4 linked regions of the Homo sapiens genome follow. The protein of the gene in region 1 interacts with the protein of each later gene in a pairwise test. Each region holds a gene or a part of one and is shown on either strand. Other genes may lie near its edges. The genes, in order: SLC12A4, MTNR1B, ZNF655 and ATF7IP.

Evidence for each region.
Region 2: the proteins of SLC12A4 (region 1) and MTNR1B interact in a two-hybrid assay, tested with the Homo sapiens proteins (one large-scale study listed by BioGRID and IntAct).
Region 3: the proteins of SLC12A4 (region 1) and ZNF655 interact in binary tests that used the Homo sapiens proteins (3 or more experiments, as listed by UniProt).
Region 4: the proteins of SLC12A4 (region 1) and ATF7IP interact in a two-hybrid assay, tested with the Homo sapiens proteins (one large-scale study listed by IntAct).

The regions. Positions count from the first base shown.
Region 1 is NC_000016.10:67,944,580-67,948,146, reverse strand, and holds part of SLC12A4 (solute carrier family 12 member 4), read left to right. Parts: coding exon 1-86; intron 87-358; coding exon 359-478; intron 479-711; coding exon 712-816; intron 817-1,041; coding exon 1,042-1,210; intron 1,211-1,513; coding exon 1,514-1,709; intron 1,710-1,806; coding exon 1,807-1,976; intron 1,977-2,064; coding exon 2,065-2,196; intron 2,197-2,275; coding exon 2,276-2,383; intron 2,384-2,593; coding exon 2,594-2,778; intron 2,779-2,926; coding exon 2,927-3,060; intron 3,061-3,215; coding exon 3,216-3,307; 3' UTR 3,308-3,567. UniProt on the Homo sapiens protein: Mediates electroneutral potassium-chloride cotransport when activated by cell swelling. May contribute to cell volume homeostasis in single cells. May be involved in the regulation of basolateral Cl(-) exit in NaCl absorbing epithelia.
Region 2 is NC_000011.10:92,968,419-92,972,465, forward strand, and holds the start of MTNR1B (melatonin receptor type 1B), read left to right. Parts: upstream 1-1,232; 5' UTR 1,233-1,307; coding exon 1,308-1,530; intron 1,531-4,047.
Region 3 is NC_000007.14:99,568,603-99,572,169, forward strand, and holds part of ZNF655 (zinc finger protein 655), read left to right. Parts: intron 1-3,085; coding exon of another isoform or gene 3,086-3,190; intron 3,191-3,567. UniProt on the Homo sapiens protein: Probable transcription factor.
Region 4 is NC_000012.12:14,421,121-14,424,687, reverse strand, and holds part of ATF7IP (activating transcription factor 7-interacting protein 1), read right to left. Parts: intron 780-3,567; coding exon of another isoform or gene 773-779; coding exon 1-772. UniProt on the Homo sapiens protein: Recruiter that couples transcriptional factors to general transcription apparatus and thereby modulates transcription regulation and chromatin formation. Can both act as an activator or a repressor depending on the context.

The sequences.
Region 1 (3,567 bases):
TGCTACCTGTTCGTGAACCTCGCCTGTGCGGTGCAGACACTCCTGAGGACCCCCAACTGGCGGCCCCGGTTCAAGTACTATCACTGGTGAGCCATGCCTCTGACACGGGAGACCCTGGGGAGGCCAGGAGCCTCATTCTGGGTGAGGCTTGGGTTTCCTGGGTAGGGAGCTCTTGAAACACTGTGGGGAGGGAGATTATAGGGCTGCGGGGGACTGGACCTAGGTCTTACACCCAGTGACCTGACCACCCACCTGGGACCTCCCACCCGGGACCTGACAGGGCTACCAGGGCATGGGCCAGGCTGTGGCCAGGGGTCCTCCTGGTCCTGCCCTGACTCTGCCCTCCCCTCTCGTCCAGGGCGCTGTCCTTCCTGGGCATGAGTCTCTGCCTGGCCCTTATGTTTGTCTCCTCCTGGTACTATGCCCTGGTGGCCATGCTCATCGCCGGCATGATCTACAAATACATCGAGTACCAAGGGTGAGTGAGCACTGCCACCTGGCCTCTGCCAGCTGAGGGGGCCCGGCCGAGCAGGCAGGGTGGTCTGGCATTGGGGTGGGCAGGGAGCTGGGCCACCGTGGGTGCCAGGACTGGGGACTGTAACTCAGGACCCCTGGGTGGTCTTGAGGGGCAGAACCCCTCCACCTCGCATCCACATAGACAGAACCCCCTGGGCGGCACCAGGGGCTCACCAGCTGTGGTGGAATCTGCAGGGCTGAGAAGGAGTGGGGTGACGGGATCCGAGGCCTGTCCCTGAGCGCTGCCCGCTACGCGCTGTTGCGGCTGGAGGAGGGGCCTCCTCACACCAAGAACTGGCGGTGAGTTCCCGCCAGACCCTGGCCAGGGCGCAGAGGTTCTTAGGGGTCGCTGTCGGGGTCAGAGGGTCGAGAGGTGCCGGCTCCCCATCCTGGGGCTGCCCGGGGCACCCTCCTGGGCCATGCTACCCAAACCTGCAGGGACCACGACCCGAGAAGGGAAGAAGAGGAGGGGCTCCCTAGAACGGCCGGCCCTGGTCTCAGGCTCCCCCCACCCGGCCACTGCAGGCCGCAGCTGCTGGTGCTGCTGAAGCTGGACGAGGACCTCCACGTGAAGTACCCGCGGCTCCTCACCTTCGCCTCCCAGCTCAAGGCTGGCAAGGGCCTGACCATTGTTGGTTCTGTCATCCAGGGGAGCTTCTTGGAGAGCTATGGCGAGGCTCAGGCCGCCGAGCAGGTACTTGCTTTGGGGAGGGAGAGCTGAGCCAGACTACAGGGGTCTGGACTGCAGCTGGCACGGAGGGGAGGGCCCAGTCTTGGCCAGGGTGGCCAGCCAGGCAGCCAGCACTGCTGCCACCTGAGAGCTGGCACAAGGGGGAGCCAGCAGTCCCATCTTGAAAACTTGGCCTCTGGGTAGGCAGCTTGTTGCCCCCAGGCCCTCCTCCACCCAAAAGTCGTTTTGTTCCCGAGGGGCCTTGGGAGGGAGCCCAGAGGCAGGAAGCTGATGGCCTCCCATTGGCCCTGGGTGTGTTCCCCACAGACCATCAAGAACATGATGGAAATTGAGAAGGTGAAGGGCTTCTGCCAGGTGGTGGTGGCCAGCAAGGTGCGGGAGGGGCTGGCCCACCTCATCCAGTCCTGTGGCCTGGGAGGCATGCGGCATAACTCCGTGGTGCTGGGCTGGCCCTACGGCTGGCGACAGAGCGAGGACCCCCGTGCCTGGAAGACCTTCATTGGTGTGTGAAGGCCTGGGGCCTGGTGGGCAGGGGTGAAGTGAGGTGGCAGTGGGCGGAGGGCCACAGACTGGTGGTCAGCCGTGCTCCTCCTCCCCAGACACCGTGCGCTGCACTACGGCTGCCCACCTGGCCCTGCTCGTGCCCAAGAACATCGCCTTCTACCCCAGCAACCACGAGCGCTACCTGGAGGGCCACATAGACGTGTGGTGGATCGTGCACGATGGTGGCATGCTCATGCTTCTGCCCTTCCTGCTGCGCCAGCATAAGGTAGACCAGGGGGTGGGTGCAGATGAGAGGGGCTAGGCCCTTGGAGGAGCAGCTGTGACCAAACCGCCCACCTGGTCCCTTGCCTCAGGTCTGGAGGAAGTGCCGGATGCGCATCTTCACAGTGGCCCAGATGGATGACAACAGCATCCAGATGAAGAAGGACCTGGCTGTCTTTCTGTACCATCTGCGCCTTGAGGCCGAGGTGGAGGTGGTGGAGATGGTGAGCCCTCTGCCCTGCCCTGGCCCCGTGGATACCATGTCCCGTGCAGCTGGGTCCTCACGGCCAACCCTGTCCCCAGCATAACAGTGACATCTCTGCATACACCTACGAGCGGACGCTGATGATGGAGCAGCGGTCGCAGATGCTGCGGCAGATGAGACTGACCAAGACTGAGCGGGAGCGAGAAGTCAGTGCCCTTTGTGGTTCACGCCAGGGCGGGTGGCAGGGTCAGGCCTTTGGAGACCGCATCGGTGGGTGCGGAGGAATCAGAATGACTCACCGCAGCCCTACCCAAGCTAGTGCTCATTTCCCGGAGGCAAGGTGGTCACATTGGGCCAGACAGGCCCCATCCCCCTTTTCCTATGGGACCAAGGCTATCTCCTGCAATTGTCCTCAGGCCCAGCTGGTCAAGGATCGGCACTCGGCCCTGCGGCTGGAGAGCCTGTACTCGGACGAGGAAGATGAGTCTGCAGTGGGGGCTGACAAGATCCAGATGACGTGGACCAGGGACAAGTACATGACTGAGACCTGGGACCCCAGCCATGCCCCTGACAATTTCCGGGAGCTGGTGCACATTAAGCCGTGAGTGCAGCAAAAACAGCCCCAGCGGCACTGGAATCTAGGGGTGGAGGTGGGGTGGGGCAGACAAGTAGTGTTAGATGGGCCAGGGGTGGGGACCCTCCTTGCAGGATGGCTCATGGCGACCTGTGACTGGCTACACTACGTGTAGGGACCAATCCAATGTGCGGCGCATGCACACTGCTGTGAAGCTCAATGAAGTCATTGTCACGCGCTCCCACGACGCCCGCCTGGTTCTCCTAAACATGCCTGGCCCACCCAGGAACAGTGAGGGCGACGAGAACTGTATCCCTTTGTGGAGAGGCAGGCAGTTGGGAGGTGGATAGCATGGGAGGTCAAGCCAGCGGCTTCTCTCCTGGGCACCCCTGGGTGGGCATGGCCCAGGTGGCCCGGGTTGCCCGTTGATTCTGTTGTTGCCTCCTTGACTTGAGGCCCTGCAGACATGGAGTTCCTCGAGGTGCTGACCGAGGGCCTTGAGCGGGTGCTGTTGGTGCGCGGTGGTGGCCGTGAAGTCATCACCATCTACTCCTGAGCCCAGTGTCATCTTGTGGCCTGGAGTCGAGGTCTTGGCCAGGACATAACAAGCTGTGGTCTGGGGTAACAGCCTCTTCCCAGCACCCACCTGCCAGCCCTGCTTGCCTGGCCCTGTCCTGGACCCAGCTTTGCTAGGTCTCCTTGGAAACCAGGCCTGGGCCTCAAAATGGAGATGGATCCCAGGTCTTGTGGGACCCTGGGATGTTTGGGGACTTTACTATCTAGCACCCCAGTAGGCCTGTCCTGGCCAGAGAAGAC
Region 2 (4,047 bases), on another chromosome or scaffold:
TTAATCCATGCTGTTGTGTAGGTCAATCATCTTTATTGCTGAGTAGTATTCCATTGCAAGGTCATACCATAATTTGCTTATCCATTCTTCTGTTGGTGGAAATTGCAGGTGTTACCAGATTTGAGCTCCTATAAACAAGGCTGCTCTGGACATTCTTGTACAGGTCTTTTGGTGGAAATATACTTTCCTTTTCATTTGGAACTTCTGGTCATAGAATAGGTGTATATTTAACTTTATTAGGAGCTAACAGACAGCTCTTCAAAGTGGCTATACCATTTTGCATTCTCATAAAAGCAGTGTATGAGGGTTCTGGTTGCTTAACTTCCTCCACAAATATAGGATAATCAGTCATTTTGATTTTAGTGATTCTAATGGGTGTGAAAAGTGCTTTGGGGTCATAAGATTAGCCCCCATTAGAAGTTATCTATTATTATTATCACCAGATCACGACTCAAACATTTTTAATAAAGGGCACCTGAGTTCCTTCTTTATTGTAATCATGCCTCAATCTTCTTCTTGTCCTAACCCCTCCAAAAACCACATCATAACCCCCAATATTGGCCATACATCTATTTAAGTATTATGTGTAAATATATGTTGGTAAATATGTTAAAGTATTGGCTTTATAAAGAGGACCCAGTAGAGACATCATCAATGCCCCCCACAATACCCAGCGAGTGCTTGGAAAATGGCTAGGTTCGTATTTTTCTGCAGCTCCCTAGAATATAACAGTCTACCCTACTTTGTTCTGGGCTCTGTCCCCACATCTTAGGAGTTGCATTCTCTTTCGGGCTGCACAGCCCTATGGGACGTCAAACCTTGCCTTTCTTGACAACTGATGGGAGGTCCCTACCATCAGCACCTTCTCCAGTCTATCAACCTGGGTTGGACGTCCCTACCTAGACACAGCTTCTCTTGGGGACGCTGTGGAGGAAATCGGGGTCTCGGGTGTGGCTATATACTCAGGGACAGAAGCTAGACGCGCTCCGCAGCCTGAGGTGGGCCAGGCACCTGCTGGGCTCGGGGTGGCAGAGACAGCTGTGCGGTCCCAGCTGTTCCTGAGCGCACCGCTGAGGGACGCACTCCCTTCTACAACGGCTGCACCCCAAGTCCTCCTCCCATTCCTATATTTTTCTCCATCCCCTGCCCACGCTTAATTAGTTATCTCCTCCAGACCCCTCCCCACTGGCCTCCTCCCTTGCACACGCGAGCTGGGCAGGGAAGAGAGCGCCCGGCTCAGTACTGCGCGCGCCCTGCGGCTGTCCGGGGCCGCGCGGTGGCCAAAGCACAGCGCGGGAGAGTCTGCGATGTCAGAGAACGGCTCCTTCGCCAACTGCTGCGAGGCGGGCGGGTGGGCAGTGCGCCCGGGCTGGTCGGGGGCTGGCAGCGCGCGGCCCTCCAGGACCCCTCGACCTCCCTGGGTGGCTCCAGCGCTGTCCGCGGTGCTCATCGTCACCACCGCCGTGGACGTCGTGGGCAACCTCCTGGTGATCCTCTCCGTGCTCAGGAACCGCAAGCTCCGGAACGCAGGTGAGCACCATTCCTGATGCTGGGTGCTGGCATCGGGCCCTTCCTTGTCTTCTGATCTTGTCCCTGACCCCGGGATATGCGCTGCCTTTTCCCTCCTCAGCCCGGGCTCCCCTTTCCCTTCACTCTAACCTATTCCTTAAGTTTGACTCTGCACTCAAAAGTTAGGGTGAGTTTTGCCCCTCCGAAGTGCGGCTGCCCAGGACGCGCTTGGCACAGAGGGAATTGCGGAAAGTTTTACTGGCGCGCTTTTTGGCCGGGCGCCGGCGCTGTGGGAACCCACGCTGCTGGATGCCATCGCTACCCCGTCGCGCTCCAATGCGTGTCTTTCCAGAGGTGCCCACATCAGGCCACAGAAATCTCACCACCTGTACTTGACATCCCACTTCCTTCCTTGCCAAGCACTGTAGCTTTATGTAGTAGTCGCTTAGAAAATCCTTGCTGAAAAAATGAGTTAATCAATGGAAGCATTTCAGTAGGTTTTGTGTCAAAAACTTATCTCCAGGTCATCTGAAGACCCAATTCCAGTTGACGGAGAGTAAATGCAGAAATTGCAGATTCTGCTTGGACTGAACTAAATTGCTTTGAAATATTGTGGTCTTTTCCGAAGACTGGGAATTCCTGGGATTAACTGTGAAAATTAAAGCAATGATTTGGCTAAATCGTGTTGTAATCCTGAAAATATTTTTCCTATTTCAATCCACTCTCATTTCAATATTCCCCTAGTCAGGTCTTCAAAGAAACAAAACCAGAGTGGGGGGCAGTATCTGAACTCTAGCCCTCACAGGTCATGGGGCATGATGACCACTTCAGCTTAGGAAGGAGCTCAGTCACCTGTTTGTTAATTTTGCAGTTTCTTCAAGTTGGGCCTTGGGAGCAAATTCAAATATTAGAGTGAATTAAAATGGAAAGATAGCAGCAGTAAAACAACCATATAGCTTAAAAATGCTTTTCTAAGGAGTCAGACCATTTTTAGCAAATAGTAATATGTATTTGGTGTGGCCTGTGACTCTAGAAATTTTTTTTTTTTGAGATGGAGTCTCTCACTCTGTCACCCAGGCTGGAGTGCAGTGGCATGGTCTAGGCTCACTGCAACCTCTGCCTCCCAGGTTCAAGGGATTCTCTTGCCTCAGCCTCCCGAGTAGCTGGGATTACAGGCGCTCGCCACTACACCCAGGTAATTTTTTATATTTTTGGTAGACACAGTATTTCACCATGTTGGCCAGGCTGGTCTCGAACTCCTGACCTCAAGTGATCCACCCGCCTCGGCCTCCCAAAGTGCTGGAATTACAGGCATGAGCCACTGCGCCCGGCCAACTCTAGGATTTTTAGCTAAAAAAACAAACAAGAAACTCCTCCAACTGTGAGTATCCAGCCATCATATGGGAAACATAACATTATTAAGAAGAAGTAAACTTTCTAACTCACTTCAGTAGTGGTGGCTGTTTTCTGGAATACATTGTTCAAAATATTGTGTCCTTTGAAGAAAAGCTTATATATTAGGGAAAAACAGGTTATGATTAGAAAACTGCATTTAATATTTTTGACACATTGTCCCTTGCAGCCATCATAAACATTCATTTCCAGCACAGGGAAGCAAAAGGGAGACAACTCCTGGCTCTATGGGGGAGAAATGGGTCCTCCTGGTTCTGACATTGGCCCCTTCTGTCCCTGACTTATTGAGTATTTAGAGCAGGTCTGTCAGGCCATGGCTCCCTGCTCAGTAATTTGGATTGCCCACCATGAGAAAGGTGGTTGAGGGAAGTAGGAGTTGCTTCCTTTTGCTGGAAGGAGAAAAGCACCCCTCCCCTCCTGCATCCTACAGAGGGCTGGCCTTTTCTGTGATCCTGGCAGGGTCTGCAGAAACCTAACCAGTTTAAGAGCATCACTGGGGAGGGTCATGAGCATGTTAAATTGCTGGCATATCCTCTGTTCTATCTTTCCTACCTCCTGATGTGTCCGCTACAGCCCAGCACCCGAACAAAAAAAAATAATAATAACACTATATCTAAATGACATCAATTCCTGCCACTGCTGCAGTCTTGCAATTTAACCAGTTCTTATGTGACCTCTGGCTTTATTGGTGACAGTCACAAACAATTGTAGTACTGACTTGAACTAAATGATCTCAGCAGAGTGAGATTTCAAAAGGCGCTTAAAACCTACAGCTCTTTGAATAGTTAGCACACATTCTACTCTTAATCAGGCCTTGTCTTACTGAAGAGTTTGGATTTAATTTAAGAAACGCTTCTTCAGACCTTTCTGTACTTAAGTCTGGCTCCTTAAATCATTGGTATTAAAAAATTAAGTCTGTAACAATGAGAATACATATATTTCCAATAACCAAGATACATAGCCCATATTGAGGTCACAGCATGTTTCCCAGGAGACACCAGTATCCTTTACTTGCCTATCACAAACCCAGTTCCTCTATGGAGCAGATCTGTATCATTCCTAACAGTGCCGCTCCTGATGGCAGGGTGAGTGGTTAGATTAATTGTCTTTTTTTTTTCAGGGATA
Region 3 (3,567 bases), on another chromosome or scaffold:
TTTTAGATCCCTTTTAATTTTTAATTTTAATTTTTTGTAGAGATGGAGTCTCACTATGTTCCCCAAGCAGGTCTCAAATTCCTGAGCTCATGAGATCCTCCTGCCTTGACCTCTCAAAGTGCTGGGATTACACGTGTGAGCCACCATGCCTGGTCCATAGATCCTCTTGATTCGTTTGTTGGTTGATTGACTGACTGACTGACTGACAGGATCTCACTCTCACCCAGGCTGGAGTACAGTGGTGTGATCTTGGCTCTCTGCAGCCTCGGCCTTCTGAGCTCAAGCGATCATTCTGCCTCTGCCTCCCAAGTAGCTGGGACTACAGGCGTGTGCCACCATGCCTGGCTAATTTTTGTATTTTTTGTAGAGGTGGGATCTCACTATGTTGCCCAGGCTGGTCTCAGACTCTTGGGCTGAAGTGATCTGTCCGTCATGGCCTCCCAAAGTGCTGGGATTACAGGTGTGAGCTTCTGTGCCCAGCCATAGATCCCTTTTAATTAACACTTCTGCGACTCCAATTATTTAGGATCCTGGTTCACCGTATGTTATTCTAATCACTTTTTCTCTGTTGTTTGTATTTACCTTTTACTTCACTGTCAATATTTTATAAATCATATTAGAAAACTCAAGATTTAAATAAAATCAAAAAGTTTTAATACATTAATTTTAAACAGGAAAAATGTAAATAAAGCAAGTGCATATTTTGAAAGCAAAGTTTTGAGTTAAATTTAGGAAATAGGCATTTAGGCTAGTGCCAAGAAAACTTACACGTTCTTTCTGTGTGTAATTTGGAGGAAGGGATGGATTTTGTTCACAGTCATTATTTATTTTTTTTCAGGGCTTGTTAGGAGGCAAAATCATAATTTTTTTTTTACTAGCAGATTGTTTAAAGGCTAGGTTCTGAAATAAGACTGTGCAGGTTTGAAAACTAAGCATTACCAGTTATTGTAACCTTGGGCAAGCTACTTAACCACTCTGAATCTTAGTATTCCCATCTGTAAAATGGCTATAATAATAGTTTCTACGTTTTAAATTTATGGTATTAAATGAGTGAAAACCTAGAGAGCTCTTGGCATGGTACTTTGCACCTACCAAGTACTTAGTAAAACTTAATAATATTTTGATGGTACTGATGATACCCTGTTCTCTCTTCTAAACTGTGATATTGTATCTTTACCTGCTAGGCATTTTCTCTTTTAAAAAAAATTATTTCAGTAGTTTTGGGGGCGTACAAGTGGTTTTTTGTTACATGGATGAATTCTAATACATAGTGGTGAATTCTGAGATTTTAGTGCACCTGTCACTGGAATAGTGTACATTGTACCTAATATATAGTTTTTTATCCCTTGTCCCTTCTCCCACCCTTTCCCTTCTTAGTCTCTGAAGTCCATTTTATCACTCTGTATGCCTTTGCGTACTCATCTGCTGGGCATTTTCTCTTATACCTTCGTACATTACATTAAACACACATCTAAAATCAAACCCCTCATCCCACATGAAGACCACCTTTTTTGTTGTGCATATGTGTTTTAAGTGTAGATATGGAGTAAGCAGCCAGAATTTATTTCAGTTACCAAATATCGACAGACACTTTAAATATCTCAGAGTTAAAAGTTGCAAATTATGTTATTGGAATTCTGAGAACAATATTGATTGCTGCTTCATGTTACACTAACTTTACTTTTTAAACTTCTGAAACGATTTCATTTGACAGGGTGGACCTTAATTAAATATATGTCCACAAGGAGAGTTGACTCTAAATGTCCCACAGGATTTCAGAAACACAGTAAATACCTTTCTTCTATCTATTCTGATCTCCTTGCTCATAGGCTCTCACATGGAATCTTTGGGGCAGCTGTCAGTTCTTCATATTTTCCAGCCCCAATGCCCTTTTTATAAAATTGGGTAGCTGTTAATACATTGATACTTGGGCGCACAGAGTTGGCACTCAATAAGTAGCCGTTAAGTAAATTAATCAAAAGAATTGCAAGATACAAGATACCTGGTCCCTTCTATCAAAGAGTTTATAAATCAAGTATGAATGACAATACCTGAAACCACTTAAAAAAAAATCTATGTAAACACCGTTATATGTGACATGTCAGGATAAGAGGGAACAACTAATAAATTTTGTACACATTCAGTAAATGGAGAGAAAGGTTTTTGGAGATGAGGGGCTTGAGCCAGACCTTGTATGTGTGCTATTAGAAGCTTTCTGGGCTGGACACATTTAAAAACTGCCCTTTGATACTAATAGTATTAAAATTCTGTCTCCTTGGAAGCAGACTGCCTGTTGCTTTAGCTTTAAAAGAGATTTATATCCAAGCATTGCATTATGCAAGCCATAGAAAGACTGTTTTATGTGAAGATGCACTGATTGCACTTCCCTCTCTATATTTTATTGTAGTTAGTTGTTTAGAGCTGTCTCTGTGTAGAGTGTGAGGTCCTTGAGGGAAGGGACCTTCTTGGCCTCTTATCCCCTGCATACTTTGCATAGAGGAGGCACTTCATAAATGTTTGTTGAATAAATGCTACACTCCTAATGGGTAAGAATGTGTCATATTACTCTTTGTTTTCTTATGTGTACTGAAACAAATTGTTTCTTGAGATTGGTCCTTAGAATATTTATTCAGTTTTCACTGATTCTCTTGCTACAGGTTAGCTAACCATGCAGCAGGTGCTTGAGTTTCACCTTTCTCCAGTCCAGCAGAATTACATTTTGATGACCTCCATTTTGATACTTGTAGACCAGATCTAATCCGAAGATTAATCTTTAGGTAACAGATGGAGAGTGATAATGATAACTTCTGTGAAGACAAACCCATGCACACATTCTGTTGTCTGAATAATATTTAAATGAATCCTTCTGCTCCCAAGTCATCAACTTGCCCCTTAACACACATCCCTCTAGAGCACAAATCTGAGCTCCTTGTAGATCTTTGCCCTCTTCACTCTCCAGACCTTCCTAATTAATGTCTTCTCAGAATCGACCTTCTGTCTCTCTTAATCATTAGTTAAAAGAAAAAGTGGCAGATGTAGGACCTGGGGATACATTGCCACATCCCATTTCCTTCTCTATGAGCAGGATTTCCAATTTCCAAGCCTGATGGGATCTCCCAGCTGGAACAGGATCTACAGGTCTTTGATCTGGAAACTAAGACTAGAGAAGTCTTAAGAGATGACTGCTCAGGTGAGTAAGGCAGAATCAGATAGAATTAGTAGGGAAGTAAAGTTCAATTGTTGAGCCAAGTTGTAGCTGCTTTGGCACTCAGAATGAAGAGCTCTGTGTGTGTCCTAGCATGGAGAGTTCCTTCCTTTTCCCTTCAGTTAGGTTGACCCTTTCCATTTGTTTAGTATCCGTGCACATGTCGTACTAGACCCCAATCAAGTTGCTTATCTAAAATTCTTTCAGCTGTTTCCCTATTATTTCCTTACTCTGCTGAACATGTCCGCTGTTTTACCTCACTGCTCCTGTTTATGCCCTTAACTTCTGCTGTTGAGATTTTGTGCCTGTTTTTCAGAGTAAATAAACTTTTCTTGTCCTTGTAGATACTACATTGTTTAGTT
Region 4 (3,567 bases), on another chromosome or scaffold:
CACCAGAGGCCAGATCATCAGAGGCTGGATCAGTGGAAGCTGGTGCTCCAGAAGCCAGATCAACAGAAGTTATTTCACTAGAGGCTATATCATCAGCGGCACAATCACCAGAAATGGGTTCAACAGGGACCGGTTCACCTGGGATGGGATCACTAGAGGTGGGATCACCAGAGGAGAGATCATCAGCAGTGGCATCACCAGAGGTGGCATCACCAGGGGACACATCACCAGAAGGGGCATCACCAGAGGTTGCATCACCAGAGGCAGCATCACTAGAGGAGGGCTCGCTAGAGGTGGGATCACCAGAGGTGGAATCACCAGAGGCCAGTACTCCGGAGGCTGGATCTCCGGCATCCAGATCACCAGGGGCTGGATCACCAGAAACTGGTTCAGCAGGCAGTTTAGAGACTGGTTCTGGAGTTATATTATGGGGAGACAAAGGTTCACAATTTAAATCATCATCCTGCTTGTTTTTTACATTAACACTTAGGATACAGGGTGTTTCCTTCCATTCTGCTTTACTTCCTTCAGGATCAAAACAAATCTCTTCAATGCCATTCACCTCTTCCTTGTCTTTAATGTAATCCATGTTTTCCAAAGGTGAGGTTGGGTCCAAATCTCCATTTTCATGGTTGCCATTTAACAGCTTGACATCAGTTTTCAACAGTTCTTCTTTGACCTTGTACACTGCTTCAAGTTGCTGACGATCACTCACTCTCATCGTTTTTCGAGCCTTAAAGACTTTTTTCTGAGGTTCTTCTAAACTGTCCATTCTGAATCTTTAAGAAAAAAGAGAAAGAGAGTTTAATAACTGAAACAGAAGCCACCTAATTGTAGACTTAATACAAATTGATCTTAGAAGAGATGCAAGCAGCACATTTCATGTAATGTTTAAGACATAGAAAACCTACTGCTTGTTGTATACTAATTATCATATTTACTGCATCTGTGTAATACAAAATCAAAAATGGCCATAGTCTACTAGAAAATCAACTAGAAAGTATTAGGGGGAAAAGGGACAAGTTTTTTTTTCCAATATGGAATTCACAGAGTATGGAGATGTTTAAGCAAAAAAAAGGTAGATAAAGTAAAAAAAAAAAAAAAAAAAAAAAAGTACCTGAAGAAAATGAGAAAGAAAAATAAAAGTGTAAGAACAACAGTAGGGAAATAACAGGTATAGAGATAAAGGAAAAAGGAGGAAGAATTAAGAAACATGTAAGGAAAGATTACATTTGCAACCAAGCATACTTAGATTGGCAGAACTATAAACATATTAACAAAAGATTACCATCAAGAAAGAAAATTCACAACAATGGGAGAAAATATTTGCAAATCATATGCCTGATAAGACTTTTATCTCGAATCTAGAATTTCATATCTAGAATACAGAATATATATTTATATAGAATACAGACTTTTATATCTAGAATATCTAAGAACTGCTATAATTCAATAATAAATCACCCAATTTAAAAATGGTCAAAGGACTTGAACAGACATTTCCAGAAAGAGACCCCTAAGCCAAAAGTCCATAAGCAATAAACATCATGAGACATCAGGGAAACGCAAGTCAAAACCACAATGAAATAACACTGCACACACGACAGGACGGCTACAATCAACGAGAATAATGAGTGTTGGCAAGGATGTGAAAAAACTGGAACTTTCATACAATGATAGTGGGATTGCAAATAGGTGCAGCTGCTTTGGAAAACAGGCAGTTCCACAATATGTGAAGTACAGAGTTGTCATATGACCCAGTGATTCCATTCCATTCATTTCCCAAGAGAAATGAAAACATATGTCCACACAAAAACTTGTACACAAATGCTCTATAGAGGCACTACTCATAATGGCCCAAAACTGGAAACAACCTAAATGTTCCATAACTGATGAATGGATAAATAAAATGTGCCATACCCCTACAACAGAATATCATTCAACCACAAAGGGGAATGAAGTACTGAACATGCTACTACATGCATAAACCTTAAAAATATGCTGAGTGAGAGAAGCCAGTCACAAAAGGCCACATACTGAATGATTCAATTTATATGAAATGTCCAGAGTAGGCAAATCTAGAGACAGAAAGTAAATCAGTGACTACCTAGGGTTGGAAGATTCTGGAGAAAATGAGGAGTAGCTGCTAAAGGGTACAGGATTTCTTTACAGGGTTATGAAAATGTTCTAACATTGATTATGGTGATGATTATACAGCTCTGTGAATATACTAAAAATAACTGAATTGTACTTTAAGTGGGTGAATAGTAGATATGTGGTTTTATCTCAGTAATGCCACTACAAAAAAATTTCAAAATAAATACAAAGGTTGTGTGTGTGTGTGTGTGTGTGTGTGTGTGTGTGTGTGTGTGTGTATTCTCTTTTTTTGGTAAGTTGTGCTACAGTTTTATCAATTCTATTCACTTATTAAAGTATGAACCTTTACTTGGCTGATATTTCTTGGTTTTATATCTGCTTTCTTGTTTTAATTATTTACTCTAATATTTATTATCTCTTTTCACTTACTTTTTCTTGGAAAGAGCTTAACATGTCATCCTTTTCCTTGAGATTCAAGCTTAAGTGTTATTTTCAATCTTTCTTCTTTTGTAATGTGTGCATATAAAGCTATAAATTTCCCTCTAAGAGCTGCTTTAGTTGCATCTCACATTTTAATGTGTCATTTACATTATTCTGTTAAAATATTTTCTAATTTCCATCATGATTTCTTCTTTCATCTATGACTTATTTAGAAGTAGGTTTCTTAAAAAGGTAATGAATTCTGACCAAGTGAAGCTCGCTTAGAAAAATACAAGGCTGATTTCACATTCAAAAATCAAGCAGTGTTGACCATGAACAAGCCATGATGCATTCTGACTTTATTTCATGCCCAGCAGAGTGTACAATTACGAGTTTTGCCTAAACTGAATGTCTGGTACCAGGATGTTACTGACTGAATTGTGCAGCATCCCACACCCCACATCCCCAGAAAGATATTAGTCTTAAGCCCCAGTACCTCAGAATGTGACCTTATTCGGATAGGGCCTTTACAGTGGTAATCAAGGTAATATAAGGGTACTAAAGTGAGCCCTAATCCAATACAATTGGTGTCCTTATAAAAAGGGGAAAATCTGGACACAGACAGACATGCACACTGGGAGAATGCCATGTGACAATTGAAGTTATGGTACCACAAGCCAAGCAACTACCAGAAGCTAGGAGAGAGGCCTGGAACAGATCCTTCCCTCAGCACCCTCAGAGGGAGAATGGCAATGACAACACCGTGATTTCAAATGTGTTGCCTCCAGAACTCTGAGACGATAAACTTCTGTTAAGCAAAAAAGAAAACCACAAAACAAATCAAGCTATTTAATTCACCACATAAACAGAACAGAGGGACAAAATCAACAAAGGATTACCTCAACAAATACAGAATATTCATTTGACAAAATTCAAGACTGATGCATAATTACAACTTGCCAGAAACTAAGAATACAAGGAAACTTACTCAAATCTGATAAAGGTTATCTACCAAGAAAACTAGAGATATCATGTCTGATATTGAAATAG